Linked DNA regions of Homo sapiens: regions 2 and 3 are each linked to region 1. Evidence: fine-mapped expression QTL. A gene starts in region 1. Each other region holds a variant in brackets. All regions are shown on one strand. Distances are from middle to middle.

Region 1 (8,275 bases):
TTTTCTACTCAATATTTTATGTGACAAAGGCTCTGTTTGTATCCAAAGTCACTAACTTGATAAAAGTGGATCTCCTTTACATTTCCTAAAAGGATGAGAATGTCTTATAAATCATTTCCAAGTGTTTCAGTATATCATCTATTTCTATCAATACTCACATTTTGAAAGGAGCCATATTTGTAAAGGAAATAGATGAAGATACACATCCTTCCCAACCCAACCCCCAAAAGAGTTGCACATGAGAAAGACTCCACCTACTCTCCCAATCTTCATTGTAGGTGTTTGTCATCATGTTTACCATTTCCTTCCATAGCAGCAACACCTGCTTCTTATTCCATGTATTAGCTAACAGTTAAAATAAAGAATAAATGATAAGCCTCCCTCCCTGGGCAAGAACCGTATTATATCCAACCCTATAACCCCATGAGAATCCAGCAAGGCACTTCGCTCTTTGGGGGCACGCCATAAAAATGCTGAATGAATGACAGCACTTTTCTTCCATCTTTTGGTCTTCAGGTTTCTCAGCAGTAACCTAACATTGAATCTGAACAGAAAACCGCCAACCTGAAACAGGTTATCCTTCATTATCACCATAGGACCATCTTACCATTTGTAGATCAAGAAATAAAATAAGGGAATCAAGTACAATTAAAAGCTTCTTCCTCAAGCCCTCAAAAACGCCTCGCAGCACCTGCAATAGCAGACAAGTTCTTTTGCAAAGAATGCAAATGTGATAATGAGGTAATGCCAAGATAGATTAAAAAAAAAAAAAAAAAAAACTGGCTGCCTGGAAATGTGCCTGAATCATGAAACAGAGTGTTGCAGGTTTGTCGATGAAATGATGGCCACCAACCCTCCTATAGCTTCACAGTTGGTGTCAGGACCGGTTCCTTAGGAGGCATAAGAAAGGGGAACTGTGAAGTGTGGAATGAAGACATTCAAACCCTAAGTACATGAAACCCAGGATTATCTGAACACTTAGTGCAGCAATGGGTTTATGTACATATGTGTTTTGAGGTTAGGTTTGCATTTAGGTGTGTTTCAAAATTTACTGCCACAAGTCTGAAGAGTGTAGCAACCACAGCAGCGACTTAAATGACTGAAGTATAAACTGTAGTTGTCACTTTCTTTACGAATTTGGCTTTTCATGAAAGGGAAAATCAAGGGAGCCTTATTGCCAAAATAGTACAACATCCTTATGTCGCCTGACTTTGCAATAAAAAAGATGGTTCTTTTATTTCGGCTTTATGTTCGTGGAAATGCGGTCGCAAGGCATTTTTGAAGCATGAGATGCTGACCCCAGTTAAAAAGGACTTGCTGTTTTAGGAGAAAAAGAGTAAAGCTAGACTGTAAGTACCAACCACAAGCTTAAAATGATCTTCCCAGTTAAGACAGGGCTCAGAGTGATTTGGTACAGTATGTGGTTTAAAATAAAATCTCGGTTCTTCCATTACAGTGTGCTTAGAAGAAAATCTAAATTTTTCTCTGAATGAAAAATAAATAAGAACCGATGCCTTACACATCATTACATCCAAGTGGTTAAGGAGAAGTAAGGAGAAGGCAACGGAAGGTTTCCAGGCTTTTCCTCCTTCAGCATTTCCCTCAAGAATTTCATCCCTGGGTTCCCAAATCAAACCAAAGCCATTCCGTTGTATTTCCAAAAAAAGAACTGGCTCCTTCAGGAAGGCTTTTCACAGCACTGCATTTTAAGCGGAAATCTTTTTTGAAGCCTTCCCTTTCCATTTACCGTTTTGTTTGTCCCTCCTGTCTGACATGCAAACACATGATACAGCCTCCATTCTTTCCATACAGCCTAATTCAAAGCAACATATGTTAAATCCACACAGAATCATGTGAGCATTCAATCCGCATCCACACCATTACCCCCACAGAACGCGTTCAGTAAGCTCCAACACAGTTCTCTGCGTGCAAATCAGACCAGCCTGGGATGTCTGCAGGACTCTCCCCTGACTCAGCCCATCCAGAGCTGCGCATGGAACCTGTTCCTTTTGGAGAACAGGGGGCTGCTGGAAATACCCACTCAGATAACCGGCCACAATGCAGCAGCCAGCAAGCCTGGCACTGCAGGCAACCCTGGGCGCAGGATCCTCCACAAAGCTCGAGGAGGCTGCAGCGCCGGGGCTTGCAGTCATTTATCTCCCTGCAGCCAAAACGCCCGGCTCGTCCCCCCTCCCTCGTTTTACCTAACTAATAGCTCTCCAACCCCATATTGAGAGGGCCTGCTGTGGATCTTGGGAGGTACAAAATGGTGGATGGGAGCTAATTTTTTCCTGCTTTCCCCATAACTTATCGCATCCATCACTGCCCGTCCTCTCCTCCAAGCACCCGGGCCGCGGCGTACCGAGCACGTCCCGCGGCCCCGGCCCGGGGGCAGAAACGCGGTCACCAACCAACCTGATGTCATGTAGCCCCGCGAAGCCTGGGGCGCGAAGGCCGCGGGGAAACGCTTGTGCAGGCGGTAGTCCTTCTCGCTGCGGGACCTCATGCGGTCCGAGGCCCGGTCCGAGAAATCCGAGCTAGGCCAGGCTCGCCGCAAGGTTGTGCTCCGGGTCTTCTTCATGGTGGGGAGGGCGACCTGCCGCCCCGATCCTCGGGGCCTCAGCGCCGGGGCGCAGCGCGCTCCTTCATCCGTCTACGGCGGGCACGACCCGGGCGGACTCTGCGCACATTTTCCCAGCCCCTCCTCGTCGGCGTCTACACCGCCAGCGGCGGGTCCGGCCCTCCCCACGCCCCCCCACACCCCCACGGCGAAGGCTCCGATTTTACACACGTCCCACAATGCATTACACTTCATTTGCAATCCGCCCGGCTTATAGCTTCCAGATTCCTGGGGGGAAAGGCACGTTAGGAGGCTCCCCGGCCGGGAGGAGGCGGGGAGGGGGCGGGCGGGGTGGGGGCGCCGAGACTTGCAGCGTGAAGGCAATGGGAGCGCAGACAATGGCCCGATTCAGCGCAGGAGTGCTTGGCCAACTGGGAGCCACGGCACAAAAGACCCAAACAAATGAGGCAGCCGAGGCCTCCGGGGCTGACCCGGGATCGGGCGTGCGGGAGGCCGGAGGGGCGGCGGCAGACCCTCCGCGCCGGGCAGCTCAGCGCGAGGCGTGGGGATGACAGTGTCCGAGTCGTGTCCCCGCGGGCCTATCAGCCGCACGGCCCGCAGTCCCCGGCGCTGGCTGGCTCTGCCTCCGCTGCAGTCCCCGGGAGACAGTCTTCATCACAGAGGCTCGAGCGGGGGGCGCGTGTGCACAGGATCCGAGCAGGCTCTGCAGACAGCAGCTGCGGCGGGCGGGCTCCTGCGGAATCCAGGAAGAGCCCGCGTCGTCCCCGCGACTGCAGCGCCTCGTCAATCTTCCCCTTGCCGAGGCTCCGGGCGCTGTGCGTGCGCGCGGGTGGATGGCTGGGTGGGTGCGCCGACACGCATGTGCCCCCTACACATGCATGCTCCTACTTACTGGCCGAGGCGGCGCCGGAGCCATGGCTGCCAAGGACGCCGAGCCTGCGATCGACCCCCGCGCGGCGGCAGCGCTGCTCCGGCGCGAGCGCGCGGAACGGCTATTGAAGGGCAGGAAGCAGGACAGCCGCCCAGTCTCATGCTAATCACCAGGCTGCCTTAAGTTAGAACGCGGTTCCCATCAGGCTTCTCATTTTCATGTAAAACACCCGGCGGCGGCGCGGGGACCTTGGCAGCTGCCCCAGCCTGGAGCCAGCGCTTGGATATTTACATATTTTTAGGATGGTCCCTCCCGCTCGGAGAGAGACAGCGAGCCAGCCTTCGTGGGAACGGGGAGATCTGCGGTGCGCTGCCTGGCCCACCTGCGCCAACCCCAAAGGAAGCTAAAGCCAGAGGGAGGGGAGGCCACGGCGAGCTCCCCCACAACCGCACACGCCGGGGCGCCGGGTCCACGCAGCCTGGAAGACGCAATGCAAGTGGCCTGCAGCGCTTCCTCTCTCCCTCTGGAGTCCCGGTGTAAGTCACCGCCAGCCCGCTACGCTGCATTCAGGTCCACAGCTCTTTAGATGGCACGGCTCTGCACAGCTGTTTCTGGTCCAACAACCAATCGCTAAAGGACAACAATGCGCGCGGCGCGCGAGGGGAGGAGGGGCCAATGCGCCGCCCGGGCCTGGGCGCTGGGCCCGGGACGCGGGCCTGGGACCCGGAGGTCACGCCGAGTTAAAGGCGCCCAGCCACGTTGCTGCTAACCCCGACCACGCTTTGCACTGCCGTTCATTCAAAAACGGTTATCTCCTCGATTTGGGTTTTCAAAAATGCTTTGGTACAGTAAACAACGACAAAAATAAGCCCGATTTCCTTTTTCAGCGCTGCATTTGACATGTTGGTGCATTTTTTCATCTGTGACAATGCAACGTTCAAAATCATATTTATGCTGTTGTTTCATATTCACAGGTGCCAAGATGCAGAGACAGGGATATTAAATCTTTATAGGGATATGCTTCTAACAGGCTGATATCGCAAAAACAAGCCAGTGGATTCTAGCTGGTTAGGATTCAGGAAGTTCTAACACAATCTGTGCTATTCCAAGGCTTGAATTATTTGAGGGGGGTAGCAACTATCTTGAAGAACCAGGCAGAGCAGGATGGCGTTAAGCCACAGGCATTATAAAATCTAGAATTAGAGCTCTCCTCATTCAGATCTCAAGACCGCCCTCTATAACCTGTGGCCACTGTACTACCTCTTGGGATACCCAGGGTAAATAAATAAATAATCACTAAGTAGCCTATGGAATTTATATTTACATAATCAAAATGTATTACTGTCAACCAATTCACTAATGTTCTGTGGTTTTTATTTTTAATTGGGAAAGGCACTTCTAGTTCAATGTCTTCTTTCCTGTAAGAGAACTGCTAAGAACAGAAAGATTACAGCTTTAGAAGTTATAGAAGGCACTTTTAGTTCAATGTCTTCTTTCCTGTAAGAGAACTGCTAAGAACAGAAAGATTACAGCTTTAGAAGTTATAGAAAGCTAGCTGTATAAAGCAGGGATCCCCAATTCCCAGGCCATGGACTGCTTGGATATTTACCTACCCCACAGATATTTACGGACCCCGTGCAGCTTCTAGTCCTCGGCCCATTAGCAACCAGGCAGCACAGCAGGAGGTGGGTGGTGAAGCTTCATCTGTATTTACAACAGCTCTCCATTGCTTACTGGCATTACCTCCTGAGTTCAGCCTCCTGTCAGATCAGTGGCTGCATTAGATTCTCACAGGAGCACGAACCCTATTGTGAACCATGCTTGGAGGGATCTGGGTTGCGTGCTCCTTATGAGAATCTAATGCCTGATGATCTATCACTGTCTCCCATCACCTCCAGATGGGACTCTCTAGTTGCAGGAAAACAAGCTCAGGGCTCCCACTGATTCCACATTATGGTGAGTGTATATTTATTTCATTATATATTACAATGTAATAATAAAAGAAATAAAGTGCACAGTAAATGTAATGCACTCAAATCATCCCAAAACCTTCTGCTCTCCAACCCTACCCCCACCCCAGTCCAAGGAACAACTGTCTTCCACGAAACTGGTCCCCAGTGTGAAAAAGGTTGGGGGCCGCTGGTGTAAAGGACCATAAGGTAATAACAAGTTGTATTAATGAATGTAGGAGAACTGACATTTAGATATCTCAATTCAACAATTACTCAGTACCTCCCAAGAGCCAAAGGTGGTTATATGAATGATTATAATAGCTATGACTTAAAGCTAATGGTGACTGCTGTGGCAACTGTGATAGTCATTCATTCAGCAAACAATGGCTGACTGTCTAGAATACGCAAGCCCTGGGATGGGTGCTGGGCAAACAGAACACCACACATGACCCTGCAGCAAACCGTCTAGTATGGAAGAGAAACAGTAGGCAAATAAATGCAGAAATTGTGCTAAGTTCTATGAAGAACAATAATCTCTCTAAGAAATGACAGTTGAGCTGAGACCTACAGCATGAGGAGCCACTCAAGCAAAGAGTGGGGGAGATGGTGTTACAGAAAGGGGGAACAGTCTGTGCAAAGGCCCTGGGGTAGAAGGGATCTTGACTTTCTGTTGGAGGAAGTGGAAAAAGGCCACTGTGGCTGAAATTGGAGCACAGTAAGAGGGAGGTTTGTGATGAGGTCATGGAAGGATGCAGAGCCAGATCATGCCGGAACTTGCAGGCCATGGTAAAGGTTTTATATTCTATTCCAAGTGCAGTGTGAGCCGTTGAAGAGTTTGGATCAAAGAAGCAATGATATTTTTAGAATTTCTTTACAGAAGAAGAGGGAATCTGTTCGAAGGGAGAGATTGACTAAGAATTTTCTGGAAGTAAGTTTGAATCGCACTTGATTAAACTGAGAAAATATTAATTGTTCATATGAAAGACGGGAGGTGAGTTGATGGACATTTGGGGAGAAGAGCTATAGCTCCACTCAGCCACCTCCAAATGCAGACCTTGCAGAGGGGTGACATGATCCAGTGTTCGTGGCCAACTAGCCTGATGTAGAATAATCAGGTGGTACATAGGCTGAGTTAGCTGAATCGGATCAGATGGCAAAGTAGGTATGGGTGGTGTAGTAATTTATCCATCCAAACTGGGGACAATGCTGAATAGTGCTATGAAGGGAAGGCTTAAATCTAGCAAACAGCGTATTGTGAAACCAGTCCAATCTGAAGAAAAATGGAGTTCCCTGTTACTATAGCCACTATTAAAATCAGACTCAGTCTGTCCATCTGTGTTATGATGGAAAGAGTCACTCTGGTCATATACAACCCCTATGTCCCTGGGCCCAGTTTCAGATCTCTAAACCTACCTCAGACAATCATGTACCTGGGTCATGAGTTGTCCATCAAGCAAGCTCGGTTTTGTAAGCCAGTATTCAATATTAGGAAAGTTAGAATTAAATGAATGATAAAGCAAATCGATTTTATAGCATTAGTATTATTTAATCGGGCTTTTAAAATGTGTATATTTGGTATTTTCATATCAGACAGATTAGAGACACTAATTACACAGATTTGCTTTGTGACTCTAATTCAAATGTATAATTGATTTTAGACTTGTAATCTTAAATTGAAAGGTATACAAATTTTGACTTGAAATCCTCTTCATTTAAAACTTTAGTTTATCAGCTTTGCTACAGTTGAATGAATTTAGAGTTAGAAGAATGTAAACTCCATAAGGATGAGGGATATTTTCTGTCTTATTCATTGTTGCTCATTGTTCTGTTTTGTTCAGAGCTATATCCCCAATGGCTAGCAATGGTTGGCACATATTTGATGACTACTAAAGGCCCAATAGAGTACTGGGGAAAATTTGGGTTGAAGCCTTCCTCGTCAGATATATTAACTACTTTTTAAAAATCAAGTGTACCAAGTATATGACATCAAAGACACAAGCCACAAAAGAAAAAACAGAAAAACTGACTTCATGAAATTTTTAAAATGTGTGCATCAGAAGACACTGTCAACAGAGAAAAGACAATCCACAGAATGGGAGAAAATATTTATAAAGCATATATCTGATAAGGGATTGATATCCAGAGTATGCAGAGAACTCCTAAATCTCAACAACAAAAAAACAAACAACTAGATTCAAAAATGGACAAAGGACTTGAATAGAGATTTCTGCGAAGAACATATCCAAATGGCCAGTAAGCACATGAAAAGATACTCAGTATCAGTAATCATTAGAGAAATGCAAATCAAAACTACAATGAGATACCAACTCACACCCATTAGGACGGCTACTATCAAAAAAAAAAAAAAAATACCCAAAAACCAGAAAATAACAAACATTGGCAATTATGTGGAGAAACTGGAACCTTTGTGCACTGTTGGTAGGCAAGCAAAATGGTACAGCTACTGTGGAAAACAGTATGGCAACTCCTCAAAAACTTAAAAATAGAGTTACCATATGATCCAGCAATTCCACTTCTAGATATACCCGAAAAGAAGTGAAAGCAGGGACTCGAAGAGATATCTGGACCACCCCCATGTTCATAGCAACATTATTCACAATAGTTAAAACATGGGCGCAACCCAAGTACCCATTGAGGGATGAGTGGATAAGCAAAATGCAATATATACATATAATGGAATCTATTCAGCATTCTAAAGAGAGGAAATCTTGTCCAATGCTACAACAGGGATGAACCTTGAAAACAGAATGCTAAGTGAAAGAAGTCAGTCACAGAAAGAAAAATAATGCATAATTCCACTTATACAAAGTACTTAGAATAGTCAAAATCATAATGACACAAAGGAGAATG
Region 2 (8,275 bases), 200 kb before region 1:
TGAATTAAGTGCATCCCAGTTCCTGTTTCGAATTCTCCTGATGACTCTGCATCATGGATATTGTTAGTTCTTTTTGTTTGTTTGTTTTGTTTTTTTTTGTTGTTGTTGTTGTTTTGTTTTTGAGATGGAGTCTCCCTCTGTCACCCAGGCTGGAGTGCGGTGGTGCGATCTCAGCTCACTGCAACCTCTGCCTTCCAGGTTCAAGAGATCCTCCCGCCTCAGCCTCCCAAGTAGCTGAGATTACAGGTGCCCACCACCCTGCCCAGCTAATTTTTGTATTTTTAGTGGAGATGGGGTTTCACCATGTTGGCCAGGATGGTCTTGAACTCCTGACCTCAAGTGATCTGCCCGCCTTGGCCTCCCAAAGTGCTGGGATGACAGGCGTGAGCCACTGCGTCCCGCTGCTATTGTTAGTTCTGAAAATAACATACAGCCAAACAAAATGGAACACACATGTGGTTCTGAGCTTCCAAGAAGCCAATTCAAAGAGAACAATCAGTTCCATTAACATAACTTACAGCACCTATGTCCATGAACACAAATGTCTCTCTGGAAACTCATAATCGTCCCTGAGTCCTGAGAGACACTGAGATATCTTTTAATGACTCTGCAGTTTCCTAGACTAAAGATCTTAATCATTTTACTTCTATCCTGGAATTTACAAATTTTTATTATTAAGACACCATATGTAAAAGCTATAATTTCTGATTCTACTTTAATATAACATTGGGGCTTTATTTATTTGTTTTCTGAGAAATCCCCAAAACAAGTGCCCATTCTTTCTTTATTGGCTTAAACTTCTTCCTTTGACATCGTTCGATTGTTCTTTATCCTTTCTTGACAGCAGAGAATTAAAAACCCCATTCTATATCCTCGTTTCTGCGTTGTGCCAAGGCTATTAATCTCTCACTTTCCTATTCGCTAAACTTCTCCCCAAATGGTAAAAGAATGTTAAGTTTTGCCCTGAAACCTATACACCCATCCACAGTGCATGCGATGACGTTTCAGGGCTGGCTTAGACTTCACATCTGTGGCATGGCAAGACTCTCGGCCCGAAAGCAGCCTCTCTGGGTCTGAGTTCGGCTGGCAGATGAGACTGGTTTCTGGTTTAGCCATGATTAGGAAAACAGCTGAGTCAGGACATGGTGATGCTGGGTGACAGCCACTAGAGTCCTGTCCCCCACTCCTTTCTGCCTGTAGCCGCCATCCCAGAAACATGGAAGATTTGGTTTCCTTGGTAAAAATGCCCTTCCCCAAAACACACCAACTTTCTACCATAAATTTAAGTCTTGCAGACTCTAAGGCGGCTGCACTAACAGGAAGACTTAATTGAGTTTATCTTTTTCTTAGGATTTCTTAGAGAGGCGTCACTGAAAAAGATAAAGACAGAAACAGATTTTTTTTTTTTTTTTTTATTGAGACTGAGTCTTGCTCTGTTGCCCAGGCTAGAGGGTAATGGCGGGATCTCGGCTCACAGCAAGCTCCGCCTCCCGGGTTCACGCCATTCTCCTGCCTCAGCCTCCCGAGTAGCTGGGACAACAGGCGCCCGCCACCACGCCCGGCTAATTTTTTGTATTTTTAGTAGAGACGAGGTTTCACTGTGTTAACCAGGATGTTCTCGATCTCCTGACCTCGTGATCCGCCCACCTCAGCCTCCCAAAGTGCTGGGATTACAGGCGTGAGCCACCACACCTAGCCCTGACTAATTTTTCTATTTTTAGTAGAGACGGGGTTTCACCATATTGGCCAGGCTGGTCTCGAACTCCTGACCTTGTGATCTGCCCACCTCAGCCTCCCAAAGTGCTGGGATTACACACAGTCATCCAGCGGGACTGCTGACCCTGCCATAGCAAAGCAAGGGCCCCCAGTTTGCCTCTGCCCCTGCACTCTTTAATAAACCAGCTGGATTTCCAACCGCTGTCAGTCCTTTCTCCAGCCTCCTGTCCTGAAAGGAGAGAAATCTGAAGTGTTCTTATTCCCATAGGATAAAACAGAAAGAGGTAAAGCACAGGCTGCCTCCACAGGTCCAGCCTGAGCCCGTCACCCCAGCCAAGCTCTTTGCTTCAAGGATAGGAAATGGGCCTTCCTCATGGAAGTCCTGCCTGAGACCTGTTCCCTGTCTTCTGGAAAGACTTTGCCCTGCATCTTCCCACAGGGGATGAAGATCACACTCTTCCCCAGAGCACGGAAGTCCCGCCCAGGTTGGCTCCACCGTGGTTCTCAGTGGGTCACCCTGCCACTCCCTCCCCCAGGGGCCTGGGGCAGGTTGGGTTGTCACAATGTCACGGTGGGCCAGGGACACTGAGGAGGCAGGCTCGGCGATGCTAAACTGTGGGAGAGTCAGGCACAACACAGCAAAATGCCAAGTGGAGAAGGGCTGTGGGTAGTCTGCAGCAGACTCAAGCACGCTCTTCCATCCCCGACCGTGAAGGCCGTGTGCCTCAGCAATCGTGCACCTAGCGAACCAGCAGATATGTGCTGAGTGCCGACTACAGCGACGGCCAACGAGAAGTTCTAATTCCACAGTGGGGAGCCACTGGGAGTCCTTGCCCCCACTCCTGCCCTCCCTGCTAGTGAAGGCACTAGACACTAAATAAACACGCATGCCACACAAATAAGTCGCCATGGTAAGAGCTGTCATGGACACAGAGAGTGCCATGAAAGAGGGTACTGGGGTGGGGGCAACAGGAGACCGATATAGATGAGGGGCTGGGGGGGCCCTCTCTGAGAAGGGAGCTTGAGGCTGAAACCCAGAGGAGGAGTGCTCAGTGGTCAGGCGGGAAGAGGAAGTGCTCTCCAGGCTGAGGGAATGGGCTTCTTGAAGAACCTGAGCCAGGAAAGACCTTTGAGAGTGAGAGGAATGGAAAGAATGGGCCAGGTGGCCAAGTGTGGGGAGCTGGGAGAGGGGACGTGGCAACAAGATGGGGCTGCTTAGGTAAGCAAGGGACCATTGGGCCAGGACTTGGTATTTTTTATTTTAAGACTTGGTATTTTTGTGGCCGGACATGGTGGCTCATGCCTGTAATATCAGCACTTTGGGAGGCTGAGGCAGGCGGATCACCTGAGGTCAGGATTTCGAGACCAGCCTGGCCAACGTGATGAAACCCTGTCTCTACTAAAAATACAAAAATTAACCGGGCATGGTGGTATGTGCCTGTAATCCCAGCTACTTGGGAGGCTGAGGCAGGAGAATCACTTGAACCTGGGAGGTGGCAGTTTCAGGGAGCCAAGACTGCGCCACTGCACTCCAGCTGGAGACAGAGAGAGATTCCATCTCAAAAAAAAAAAAAACAACTTGGTATTTTTGATCTTAAGTTCAGTGGGAAACCACAGGGAATTTTTACAGGGGAGGATCATGATCCATCATCTTCAGGGTAATGTAATTCATAGCTCATGGGAAGAACAGAGTTAAATAACTGAGGTCATGAGCAGTTCCACGAAAATCCTTACACTGACCCACTAAACAGACTGTCAATGTGATTTCATACACCTTTAATTAGTAATACTGGTTGCTGTGAACAACAATCTTAATTTTTCTTGCCTGGATCATCGTAGACTTTGGAAAGAGCTCCCTATGGCCCTCCCAAAAGTTTCAATGACATACACATCAAGTTATTTTATATTTTGCAGATAATAAAAATATGGGGATTTTAAAAAAAATTTTGGTCAATAACAACCATAACAATAGTGGCTATCTGGAATGAAGTACCTCCTCAATTCACTCTCTCTGCATTGTGGATACTGTATTTACTGAGTTAATGGCGGCTCAGCATTTTAGGTATCTTGCCTATGGTTACAAATCTCTGAGCAACTAACCCAGGACTTGAATTCAAGTCTAGCCATGAAGCACACAGTCCCATCCAGTTCTTCTAAGATGTTCTAAACATTTCAGCAGAATGTTCAATGTGTTTCTAACATCGTGTTTCCCAGTTACAGACTCACCCTTCTGGCTTCTGTGGGGTCTAGAGCTACATCTTGGCTCCTTCACACTTGCAGAAACAGAAGTTCTACCATCATCCTTTTAAATTTTCTTGCTCGTGTCATACTGCAAAAACCTCTACAGTTGTTCCAAGCCCAATTTATCTCCTTTTATTCTTCCTTACCCCAACCCCTTTCTTTCTTTCTTATCACCAACATGGATGATTTGCATAGACCCGAACCAAAATTTTTCTGGTTGTGAAAACAATTCTTCCAGTGCAAGACTTAAGTGTTGGGAATTTAGTGGTCAGGGAGGGGTAACCGTGCTCGCCCAAGTAACTTCAATCAGC[C/T]TAATAAATAATCAGTAGAATCTCTGGAATGCCCTCTCTGTGCCAATCCCTCCCTGTCCTTCAAAGCCCAACTCAAACACCATCTCTTCCAGGAAACACTCAAGAGTTGCTAATGTTCTCCAGCTTGGAATTTCTGTAAGACCTGATGCTACATTTGTTTGTCTGTTTTGGACTCTGCCTTGCCGGAGTGGAGGCTCCCTGAGGGCAGGTCTTTGGCATCTTGACCTTTGTTTCCCATCATAGAACTTGTACACAGTAGAGTCTCAGTAGATGTTAGTGGGTGGTATGAATTATTAAATATTGAGACAGTTGATTCCTGACTACTTATTGACAGATTGTTCACTTGGTTGGTGTGTAAACCAGTCACCAAGTAAACAGAGAAGAAAGCGAAGTCAGGCTTTCAAGCTTGGTTAATTATTAGTAGCCCCAGAAGAAATTTCAACAGGGAAGAGGTGTTGAAAGTACAAATTCTTCTGACCTCAGTTGACCCAGAGCTACAGTCCAAGGGCAGGACACAGCTCTCCCCAGCCCTGAAGGGCTAATTCCTGCAGCCTCTCCTGGACAGTGTCCATTTTATGCCACCATGCTCACAAAGGTAGGATGGGGAAAGATTTCCCCAGAGCTAGGTGAAAGATCGTAGAACATGGTCTGGACCCCTGCCTGACTTGAGAGAAATGCAGCAAATTCAGGCCCAAGCTTCTAAAGGAGGCCAATATTTTTCTCCAGAGGAAAGACTTATTTTGAAAACTGGAAAAGGATATGAAATGCCAGGCTCAATTCTAAAGCCTGTGGTTGAATGGCTGTGAGGCCTGGACTCAAAATATCTGGGGAAATCAAGACAATCTGGAAAACGTGGCTTCGGAGCTTTAGTGACAGCTAGTGTGGTATTGTCCAGGCCTGCCTGAGCTTCAGAAAGTCAGATGTGGGGTGGGAAGCTGCATGCGTTCTGATGGTGACCAGGGCCATCTGTGGGAGCTGTGTGGGAGCACAGGCATACCCTCCTCAGCCTGGGCGCACTGCAATCAACGTGATTCAAAAAAAGAAAAGAAAAGAAAAGAAGAAAGAAACCCCATCCACTAAGTGCTTTTCTCCAGCGCTTTGCTCCACTCCGAGAATGTCTGCGTCGCCAGATCCCTGCTGACTTGGCTGCCTGCATTTTCCATTTCGAGGATCAAGCAGTGTGTGGCCAGGGGCTCGCTGGGGTCAGGCCAGCAGGCCGAGGCCTGAGCAATTACATTCTGTTTCAGAAAGACAGAGAAAGGGAAATGGTTAGAGGAACATCCCTTTGGAGCGGCATGTGGCAAACACATCTCCAAGGCTCATAACCACCACTCCCACGGGCTCCAAAGAGTCCTGCTGGCTGGAAGCCTCTTTGCAGGACAATTTAAAATAGCAATGCCACAAAATATGAGAAAGCGTGGTTTATAATAGAAACCATATCTTGACCTTCACACTAGCAGCAAAACCATCCAAGCCAGCCAAACTGTCATCATTTCACCAGCGTTTTCACTGAAGCCACCCATGACTTGAACATTGTTGGTGCCTTTTCTTAGACTGGGAGGATGTCAGAAGTGTATTGTATTTTCAGGGAGGTGGGAGGCTTCTGTTATAACCGTGTCCTAGAAGAAAAAAGTAGATTTTTATTAGGCCTCTAATACACCTTAGATAGGTTTCACCTTTTATTTTAATCTGACCAGATTTCAACGGTGTTCCCCAGTTCCCTGGAGACCTGTTGTGATGCCTCAAGGGAGAAAGGGAAGAACTTGGGTCCCTGACCCCACACCCCATGAGAATTATACTTTCAGTAGTTGAAAGGAGACACAATAGTCAAAATGTGTAACAACCAGCATCCCATGGGCGCCGGCCTTTGAGAATGAAGCACCTGTTGGAGCAGCTGGAGGGCCACCCTGGCTCCCGCCTGTTGGAAAGCAGCCCTGTACCAGCTGATCCTGTGCCTCATTCTGCAGTCCCTTGAAGCCCTTTGAACTTTCTAAGAGGGAGGCCCGTGTTGCTTGCCCAGTGCCACACAAAGGGACATGAGGCACAGTCCCTGATCTCAGGCACTTCTCAGAAAAGGACAATCATCCTTTCACATGGCCCATGGCAGATGCCAGGTGAGCAGCTTCTAGGGGTTCTCATGGCTGACTGCACATCCCGACCACCTGGGGGACATTAAGAAGAGATTCCTCAACTCCTCCTGACCTGCTGAATGCAAATATCCCGGAGCCAGGTCCAGGCTGAGCTCAGGGTGGTCCTTGAGCAGCCAGCATGGGATGCACCGGTGTGGACGGTGAGCACGCTGGTTTCCAGCAGGGAGCGACACTGTGGCCTCTGTGGGAAGGCCAGAGGGGCAGCACCAGGCAGAGCAGGAGGCACCAGGCAAGGCCCTGCAACAGCGCCTCTGCTCGGGGAGGGATGGCAGAGAAGACAGATTTCAACCCTCCAGCCACCTCGGGAGGAGACATTTAGGGATGCAGGACACAGCTGGAGGCCGGATGTTGGGCAGCTGTTGGCCACCAGCCTCCTCCGTTATTCTCCCCAGCTTAGCAACCATTCTCCTGTATATGGTGGAGAGAAATAGGAAGGAATGGGCAAGAAATATATATGATCATGTATTCCAAAAATGCATCATGAAAAGACAAGTAAATGCCCCTAGAGTTTGCCAAAGCCACACCTTGCCCATGTGAAGCGGCAAATAATAAACATGGACCACTCAGTGCTCCTCGCCTCGTCCTGTCCTTCCACCCCTCCCTCTGCCTGCACCTTCACTCCCAGCGCAGCCTCGCATTTCTGAGTGTGCTCCCCAGACAGCACAGCTCAGCTCAGCACTCAAAGGAATCCTACAATGCTGAATGCAAACGGATGGGCCCTGGCAAGTGTCGAACAAACTGTATTTACTGGGTTTCTGATTCGGAGGTAAAGCGCAAATGTTGCATTTTCTTTTCATTTTAATGCTAAGGATGATTGAGACAAAGGCCTGGTCTAGAAATTATAACTCTTATCTCATAATTATTCCTTGGCTTCCCAAATCAATGCAAGCATATAACAGGCATTATCATGGGGAGCTGGCGATGGAGTGCAGGCGCCCAGAGAGAATGCAGGCACCGGCAGGAAAGCGCGCAAGCCTGAAGGCACCCTCGCAGCGGCTTCTCACCGCGCGTCCTGGTGTGGGGCGACTTGTTTCTGGTTCCTTCCTGTTAGAAATGATTAACTGGTTGAGGGGCTCATCAAGGAGGGTCCTGGCATTGCTGTCTACCCCTGTCTAGAGGAGGGGTCCTGGAAGGCACTGGGAAGTGCTGAACATATCACCCTGGGTGAAGATGTTACCTAAATTCCTAATATAGTGCTGACTGTACAATGGCCAACTTGTCCTGGTTTGCCTGGGACTGTCCTGGTTTTCAAACTGAAAGCCTTGCATCCCTGAAACCCTCTCAGCTGCAAACCAGGAGAGTTGGTCACCCTGTTTGGTTGGCAAAACCTCGCTAGCAAAACAACCCAGTTCCTCTCACCTCCTGGCTCTTCCAGCTGTCTCTCTCTGATGGCAGCTTTCTTTCCATCTTTCCCACCCAGGTCATTCAAGGGCTCCTCCGCTCTTGGAGTTCCAGGATTCTGTCACTGCAGGACCCTTGGAGCGACCCCACCCTCTTTATTTGGACTCCCTGTGTGGACTCCTCATCCTGATTTCTCCTCCCCATCTCCCTACCCCAGTGCTACACACACACACACACACACACACACACACACACACACACACACACAAGCTCACACACATAAACATTAACACACACGTGCAACACAGACACACATAAACACACACTCACATATACACACGCACACACATGCTTACACTCATGCACTCACACACTCTCATACACAGGCACATACACACTCATGCACACACACATTCACACACACATGCACACATGTGTTTACATGCATGTAGGTTGCATGCACACAGCTGCGTCCCCACTGACTGACTCTCCCCTCGGCCTCCTCCTGTGTCCCCA
Region 3 (8,000 bases), 84 kb before region 1:
AGAATAAATAGAGACAGATAAGGCAGAAAGGGTAGAGCATCGGGCAGAAAGGGGCCATCCTCGTGGGCAGGGGTGGGTGAGAGCGCCCTGGCCAAGAGCCACCTTCCCCACCGCCAGAGGTGATTCCTGACGTCTCTGATAGGAACAACTAACACTTCTGTTGGACCATTTAGCTATTTGCAATAGATGCATAGCAGAAAAGGTAGGATGGAATATGAGCCCTGGGACCAATCAGGTTAATTTCGTAATTAACGCCTTTGCTAAGGCTCCACACTATAACCCATCAGCTAGGTCCAGGGTGGTACGTGCTAGGCACATGGAATAAAACCTAGCCGAATGCTTTCACACGGCAGGTCCTCAAATGCTTGTAGAATCAAAAGGTCCTACGTACATAAACAAGAAGAGGCAAGGCCCTGCTACCTTACAAGATGTTTTCCAACACCAGCTGCCACTTGTGCTCCAGTCCTTCAACCAGAATGAAGGTAAAGCCACTTACCAACAAGGATAAAGTTATGATGAAATACCAGTCCTAGATGATAACAATTAGTAAGATCTCCCAGATGTCCTGAAATTCTGTAAAGCACCTGACCAACAAGAGCACCTGAGGAACATGACGTCTTCCTTTTCCTTAAGTGCATCACATAAGAAAGAACATAAATTCCTATTTTAAGCCACCCTGTACTTCTCCTTCATGTTCATTCTGCAGCATAACCTGGCCTAACACTAGACATTAGATGCTCCAGTTTCCACTGATGATATTTCCCAACTTCAGCTTAATAAATCATCTAACAACTCTAGGTCACACATTCACTTTCCCTCTTTTTAAGTTGGAATCACCAGAGCTATTTCTCAGTCTTTGTATTCTCTGCTTCATCAGTTTAGGGATGACAACTGTAGTGGGACTGATTTCTGTAAAATACAATTGTAATAGGACAGGAAGGCCTAATTAAATAAACTACAAATATGGACAGGTTGACAGTTCCCAAATTACAACAAAATTGTACCGATTGACTGCTACCAACCAACCCCCCTAAAACCGAACACGCTTCTACCCCTTCCAACTGCCATGGAGGTCATTATGAAAGGACTATGTCAGAATTCAGAGGCATGAAAGAAAGGATAGGGGATCAGATCAGATACACAGAGGAAACGTCTAAGTCGCTGTACAATTAAGTAACTTTTCTCTCTTCAATTCAGCATTACAAGATGGTGTTAAAAGCCATGGGCTTTGTAGTCAAAACTTTAGGTTCAGAGCCCAGTTCTGCTCCTCACTGGTTGTGTGATTTGGGGCAAATTATTTAATTTTTTGAGTTTCAATTTTTTCTTTTGTGAAGTATACATAATGATGTTTACCTTGTAGACTCACTGAGGGGATTAAATGAGATAATGGATGTTGAGTGCTTACCCTGTCCCTGAGACCTAATACATGTTTAATAAATAGTAGCTAGTATTAAAAATATCTTCCCTGGCCGGGCGCGGTGGCTCATGCTTGTAATCCCAGCACTTTGGGAGGTCGAGGTGGGTGGATCAGGTCAGGAGTTCAAGACCAGCCTGGCCAACATGGAGAAACCCCATCACTACGAAAAACACAAAAAATTAGCCAGGCGTGGTGGCAGATGCCTGTAATCCCAGCTACTCGGGTGGCTGAGGCGGGAGAATCACTTGAACCCAGGAGGCGGAGGTTGCAGTGAGCCAAGACCGTGCCATTGCACTCCAGCCTGGGAAACAAGGAAAGACTCCGTCAAAAAAAAAAAAAAATTCTTCCTCAAGCCCATCTAGATTTATCCAATTTACTCATTTACAGTGTTTGAATTTCTACCAATGGAAAATTTGTTTGTACCTAAAAATAAGCCTTTTTAAAAAACTAAAATATCTTTGGGAAGGCTAAGAGTGCAGAGGTCTTCCTTATACTAGTATGAAGTAGTTTAATAAGATTACTTTAATCAGATATATAGAACACATAGCATTTGGGATGCATCACCAGGCTGGGAGTGCAAACATGCATTACACTAGGGACTTTGGAGAGAAAAAGGCACTAGGAGATGGGAAATAGTGTGGATAGAGAATTACAAGGATATCAAAGGATGTTGACCTATTTCAAAACTTAGGTTGGGCCAATCCATTACCTAAGAAAGGGAAAGGAAACTCAGGACTTAAATAAGTACTCTTAGTATTAAAAATCAGTGACACCAGGAGTTAAATAATTTCTGATATGATCCGAATTATTAGTAACCATTCTGGCTCTTTCTTCTAAGGAAAATGTCCTGTAGGAGTCAAAAAAGTGACTTTCACCTAAACTTCCCGAATTCGGCATACTCCTCATAACTTAAGGATGGCTTGTCCAATATAATTCAAGTAAACCGTGATCAATGTCCACATGCTCATTTGTCCTTTACGGCAACAGTTCTTTACAAGCAGGGTAAGGCAGCTTCCTGGCTGTGACACTGTCTCAGGGTAAGAACCATCACAACTTCTAGAGTGGCATGCATGACTCCTGAGGTCCACCTTAGCCTGAATATACCCTGTGAAGATTCTTAAAATTAGCAAAACCAGATCATTCTAACTCTCTATGACCAAAAAAAAAAAAAAAAAAAAAAAAAAAAAAAAAAAAATCCTGCTTTTTAAACTGCCCCTCTTCCTATTCAACTATTTATTGAAAGGGTTCCATGTGTAGGGAACTGCTAGGAGATGTAGACAGCAGAAAAAAGCATAAATCTTGATCTCTGCCTTCAATGAGATTACAATTTAGGTGGGAATATAAGATATACATGTGTGAAAATATAAAGCATCATGAAATATACACATTGCTGTTCAAAACACCCTTAGAAGAGCTATAGCAAGAAAACACATGAATGAATAGAAACTTAACTCTATAATGGGAGTTTCAAGGATTTAGAAATGACCTCCTGTTGGGGTGATTAGGGAGAACTTTCCAGGGGACAGAGATTTGGAATAGGTCCTTAAGGATGGGTAGAATTGATGGGTGTGAGGACATGATGGAACTGTATTTGCAACATACCATGCTTGTGTTTTTTCTGACCAAACATCCTTTAAACCTGACTCAGCATCCTCAACGTTGCTCTGAAGATGCAAACTGCTATGCAGAAAGAAGAGACCTCTGACAGTGGAGAAAGGAAACATGCTCTCTTTTCTTCTGTGACAGGGTGAGCTATGAGATGGATGTGACTGCGAAGAGAAAGAAGATGTTCAAGGGGTCTTGAACATCTGCCTTTAAACATGTTCTAAAAATTCTTACCTATTACATACGGGATTCAACACTCTCAGAAATATCTGTAACAGTGCTGAAACCATCCATGTGATGAGGGGGTAAAGCCATGCTTTCAGATGTGCCAAGTCTCACTTTGGAAATGAGGCATGTAATGTACTTTTGAGGACCAAAATTTACCATTTCGTTGTCATGTTTTTTTAAAAAGCTTTCGTGTGAAAAGCCCATGGATGTTGTAAGAAAACAGCTCTGTCATAATCTGAATCCTAAAGCAGACTATGATGAAATATGCTTACTTCCTTAGCAGTTAACAGCAGCCTCAATATGATGTTAGTCTTGGAAACAGTCCCTGGGCACATAAATCAGGCTTTCTTGGATTTTAGTGCATTGCATGTAGGTTAACAGGCCAAACAGTATGCAAAATTTCGGGCACTATATATTAATTGGTAAGAAAAAATGTCGAGGCCGGGCACAGTGGCTCACGCCTGTAATCCCAGCACTTTGGGAGGCCAAGGCAGGCAGGTCAACAGAGGTCAGAAGTTCAAGACCAGCCTAACCAATGTGGAGAAACCCCGTCCCTACTAAAAATACAAAATTAGCCAGGCGTGGTGGCACGTGCCTGTAATCCCAGCTACTCAAGAGGCTGAGGCAGAAGAATCGCTTGAACCCGGGAAGCGGAGGTTGCAGTGAGCTGAGATCACACCATTGCACTCCAGCCTGGGCAACAAGAGCAAAACTCTGTCTCAAAAAACCAAACCAAACCAAACAAACAAAAAAAAAAAAAAAAAAAAAAAACCAGAAAAAATGTCAAATACTATTTACTGAATGCCTCCCTCAGAGCAGCGAGC[G/T]AGATAGATATACAGCTGAGGGAAATCTGGGGCAGTCTGATTATTTCCTATTGGCAAATCCTGCTGCTGTGGACTTCTCGGTCCCCGTGAGCAGCTCTGGGATGACCTGGGCTGGTGAGGTCGTGTGTGGTGGGCAGCCCACAGTGGGAGGACCTGGACTGCCTAAGATTGAGGCTGCGGGAGGAGCGGAACAGCAAGACTTCTCAGAGGACCGTGCACCCTCTTCACGGGTGGTGCTGACATTTCACCATATTCCTTTGCACACAACAACTGTTGAAATAAAAGCAGGGGAAACCTACCTGGCCCTTTCTGGACTGGCTCCATCCCCCAGGTAGCACTGACGCTAAAGCCTGGTGCATGCTAGGGAGCTGCATCCAAGCACAAGAAGGAGCCAGTAACAGAAACGGACGTCCTAGAATCTGGAATAAGAAGAAAGAGTAAAGTTTCAAGTCATAGTATCCTAAATGAGCATTTCAGATTGGCTACTGAGGGCCCGTGGAACACAAGAGGAATCTGGTACTTTACCTTCGTAGATCTACTTTTTAAAAATGAGTTCCAGAACTCTCAGCTCTTCTTACAATTCAGGGCTTGAGATACTGGTACAAGTTCAGTTCAAAAGCTGGCAAAAGGCACCTTAAAAAGGCTCTGTGAATGTACTTTGCTGGTAACGTTTTGAGGAGGGAAAAAAAAAGGAATCCTCTTTACCATTCTTTTATCCTATTTGCATGGAACAGCTGGAATCCTGTTCCATGCCTATCCCGTACATCACAGCCACTTGCTGAGCCAACATCCCACTGCAGTGCCTCGGAATCTGCAGTGTCACTCCTCTTCTGCTTGTTCTCTGCAAAGTGAAGTCACAGGGACGGATCAGCCAACCTGACTTCTCACTGCCCTGCCCAGAATCCTTTGTGAACTGAAATGAGTCATCGCTCCAAGAAAAGCTACAGCCTCTGTTTGTCTGTGCAGGCTCCTTTGTCTGTGCAGTGCGGAGACGCGAGGTCAGAATGTACCCCAGGCGCGGGGTGGCGAGGGGCACACTCTCCTCTCCAAGGGGCCCAGGTCCCCTCCCATGCATTAGCACCAACTCATATTTTTTTAATCATGAAAAAGGTAAAAAGGGCACATACCTCCAGATGCTTGAAGAGAGAACACACACATTAAAATTGATCTGGCGTCATATACTCACCAGTCCGTAATTAGAGACCTGCCACATTTTCCTATGTTGTGTTAAGGCTGGCTTTGCATGGTGACGAAGGACGCGTCTCCCTCCTGTGTGTAACAGGCGGTTCTACTGTACACTGTATCAAAGTTTAGCTGCAGTGAGCTATTTGTCATAAATTCCAGTTGCCGTGCAAGTCTTTGCAAGCCTGGGTCTCGTCATTCCCGACACACAGCCGTCAGGCTCGCAGCCCGGGCAGCGGTGGAGCTCACCCAGCACCAGCCAGTGCGGCTTCTGCCGCTGCGAGGAGGGCGGCGTGGGGAATGAGGTCACTATGTCAGGAGCTCGCTCTCAGCAGGAGCCTCTCCTGCGCTTACAACACAACTCCAATCGCACCGAGAAGTGGGATTCATGGGATTTGGGGGGTGGCTGGTTCCTCCCCTGTTTCTTAAAAATGTCTACGGCTAAGATCAGCAAGGTGAAAATGAATCACGTATCTGCATAAAAATGTCCTTTTCATTGCACTACGGGTGCCACGCTCATTGTGAACCCCAGGCTGAATCACTCACGTGTACACCTGCGGACATGCATTTACACACCGACACACACACACACACAGAGGAATTTATGCCAGCAGAGAAAACATGTAGTCTTTATTTAGAGTGCAAGAAGCAACACGTAAACATCTCAGGAGGAAGACGGGGGCGGCAGTTGAGAGAGAGAACACAATGGAAGGAGTAGAGCAGCCACATAAAACCCGAGAAAAATGGAGTCAGAGAGGCCAAGGAAACGAATCTCACGGCAGTGGTACTGCCGAACTCTCCCAAATCCAATAACGCCAAAACAGGCACCGCTCGCTGCCTCCGCTCAGGATCCGGATAACCGAAAAATTATCTCATTCTCAGAAACCCATAGAGGTGGGTGGCAGACGATTCTGCAGCAAATTCTCCCACATCCTCATGAACCCAGCAGCTCAGCTACCAGGGGCACAAAATGTGGGGTGCCAGCAAAGATGGGAAATGCACTGAAGCTCTTCATAAGGCGCCCCCGAAACTCAGAGTTACAGGGGTCCCCACGTGGGTCTCCCGGCTAAAATCCTGAAAGCGTCCTATCCTCTCCTGACTCCGGTGATTCAGCCTGTCCTCCAGAACCTCCCCCAACAGAGCTCAGGCTCTGGCAAAGGCCCCCCTGTGAGTTGAGTTCAAATCAGCGTCTCTTGTCACCCCTGCACAGTGACATCCATTCTGTCCTCGGGAGGCTACAAAACGTATAACCCGCTTCTGCGCCATCACCCATCCGATAGCTACAAACACTAACCAGGTCCCTGTGCCCAGATCAGCTCTTCTCTAGCTGCCTAGAGTCTGGGACACTCAGCAGGCATGCAGACTATATATTCATCTACTGATCCATTGAGATGCTTGCTTTGAATGTTATTAAATAAAACGTCTTCCATGCCCTCAACCACCTAACGCTTTTCACATCCTCTGCCCTCCTGGGGTCCCCCCTTTGCTCTGGTCTGGCGTATCCATTTCCCTCTGACGACGTGGCATCCTCCTGCTGAGTCCTCCCCGTGGCACTGTCTCCTCCCTGTCCTGGACTATCTGTCACCCTGTGACCCCCTTGAGAATGTGTTCCACACCAACTGCTACTGATGCACTTTTTAACAGCCTCATCAATTTTACCTTGTATGCTTGATCAGAAGCATATAAGGACCTAATAGGCCATATACAGATGAAAACATACATGTTTGGATATTAGAAATTATGACTACATTTTTATTTATACATTCTCATCCCTTTTCTTCAAGTATTTGTTTTTTTTTTCTTTCTCCACATACTTAACCAAATACGGTCTTGATTTTCCCTTCTAGGGTATGATTTTCTCTCCTCGTTGATAAGCCACTAGCTTCTCATGCATGCCACAGACTGAGCCTAGGGCCCAGCACCAGCGCCTCCAAACAAAGCCACTCGCCTTTCATCAAACCTCTTTAAGTCTGGCTGTGTTGTTGGATATAAATCCACCCAAACCCATGTAATCCAGCCCATTCCTGTCGGGCGTGGTCTGATCACTGTAAGGTCAGACAGGGTGCCTAATAAGCACACGCACCTTAAGAATGCAATGATGGAAGCATATAACAAATGTATTACAAATTCATATCTAAACAGACATATCTGTAGTCCTGGCAGTGTAAGAGCCTTCTGGGAAGCCCTGGGTCACTGTACCACCTCCTGACAGTTAAAGACACAAGTTTCTTCTATGATCTATGAAAGGTTAAATATGTGGAGAAAGAAAAAAAATCCAAATACTCGAAGGGATGAGAATGTACAAATAAAAATGTAGTCATAATTTCTAATATCCAAGCATGCATGTTTTCATCTATATATGGGCCTAGTATGTCTGTACTTAGAAACTCACATCATCTTCACAAGGACTCTGAAAGTTAAGTACTGGTGTGAGCCCCACTTAAAGAGGGGAACTCTCTTCCTGAAGCTCACAGAGCTGGTGAACGGCAGAGATGGGATTTCAACCCAAGGCAGCTGGCTCTCGAGTCTGTTCTTTCAGCCACTGAAAGTCAATTTTACCTTTTACACGTTTATGTATGCTGTTCTACAGACTTCCTACATGAATCATCTTCAACAACCATTGCTGTTGAAAGTCTGTTCTTTCAACAACACGTGTTACCTCTTGATAATTAAAATAAAAAAGCCACTGTAAACAAAAAAATGTCAAAACCTATATGTCAATTTTTAAATTTAGATTGAACACA

Alleles and levels. Positions count from the first base shown, and alleles are read on the strand shown. Sizes are in standard deviations (SD) of each study's normalised expression. Not every link is listed here.
In carriers of allele T in region 3, the expression in monocytes after R848 of the gene that starts at base 4,065 in region 1 tends to be lower than with G alone (large effect, 1.1 SD a copy in Quach 2016).

What was found.
Region 2: its variant is fine-mapped to the expression of STOX2 in lung (TOPMed, PIP above 0.99).
Region 3: its variant is fine-mapped to the expression of STOX2 in monocytes after R848 (Quach 2016, PIP 0.95).

What each region holds. Positions count from the first base shown.
Region 1 is chr4:183,901,097-183,909,371 of GRCh38, reverse strand. STOX2 (storkhead box 2) reads right to left here and starts at 4,065. Exons shown (of 4, transcript NM_020225.3): 1 at 2,416-4,065. The coding sequence starts at 2,581. RefSeq lists enhancers at 3,105-3,812, 3,813-4,522.
Region 2 is chr4:184,101,057-184,109,331 of GRCh38, reverse strand. All of the region lies in intron 6 of ENPP6 (ectonucleotide pyrophosphatase/phosphodiesterase 6), which reads left to right. Among named protein-coding and RNA genes, the nearest start is that of ENPP6, 110 kb to the left of the region's middle. RefSeq lists a silencer at 6,542-6,836. The variant C/T (reference allele first, on the strand shown) is at 4,269.
Region 3 is chr4:183,985,191-183,993,190 of GRCh38, reverse strand. The region is part of intron 1 of STOX2 (storkhead box 2); the gene reads right to left. Among named protein-coding and RNA genes, the nearest start is that of STOX2, 84 kb to the right of the region's middle. RefSeq lists an enhancer at 4,468-5,254. The variant G/T (reference allele first, on the strand shown) is at 4,075.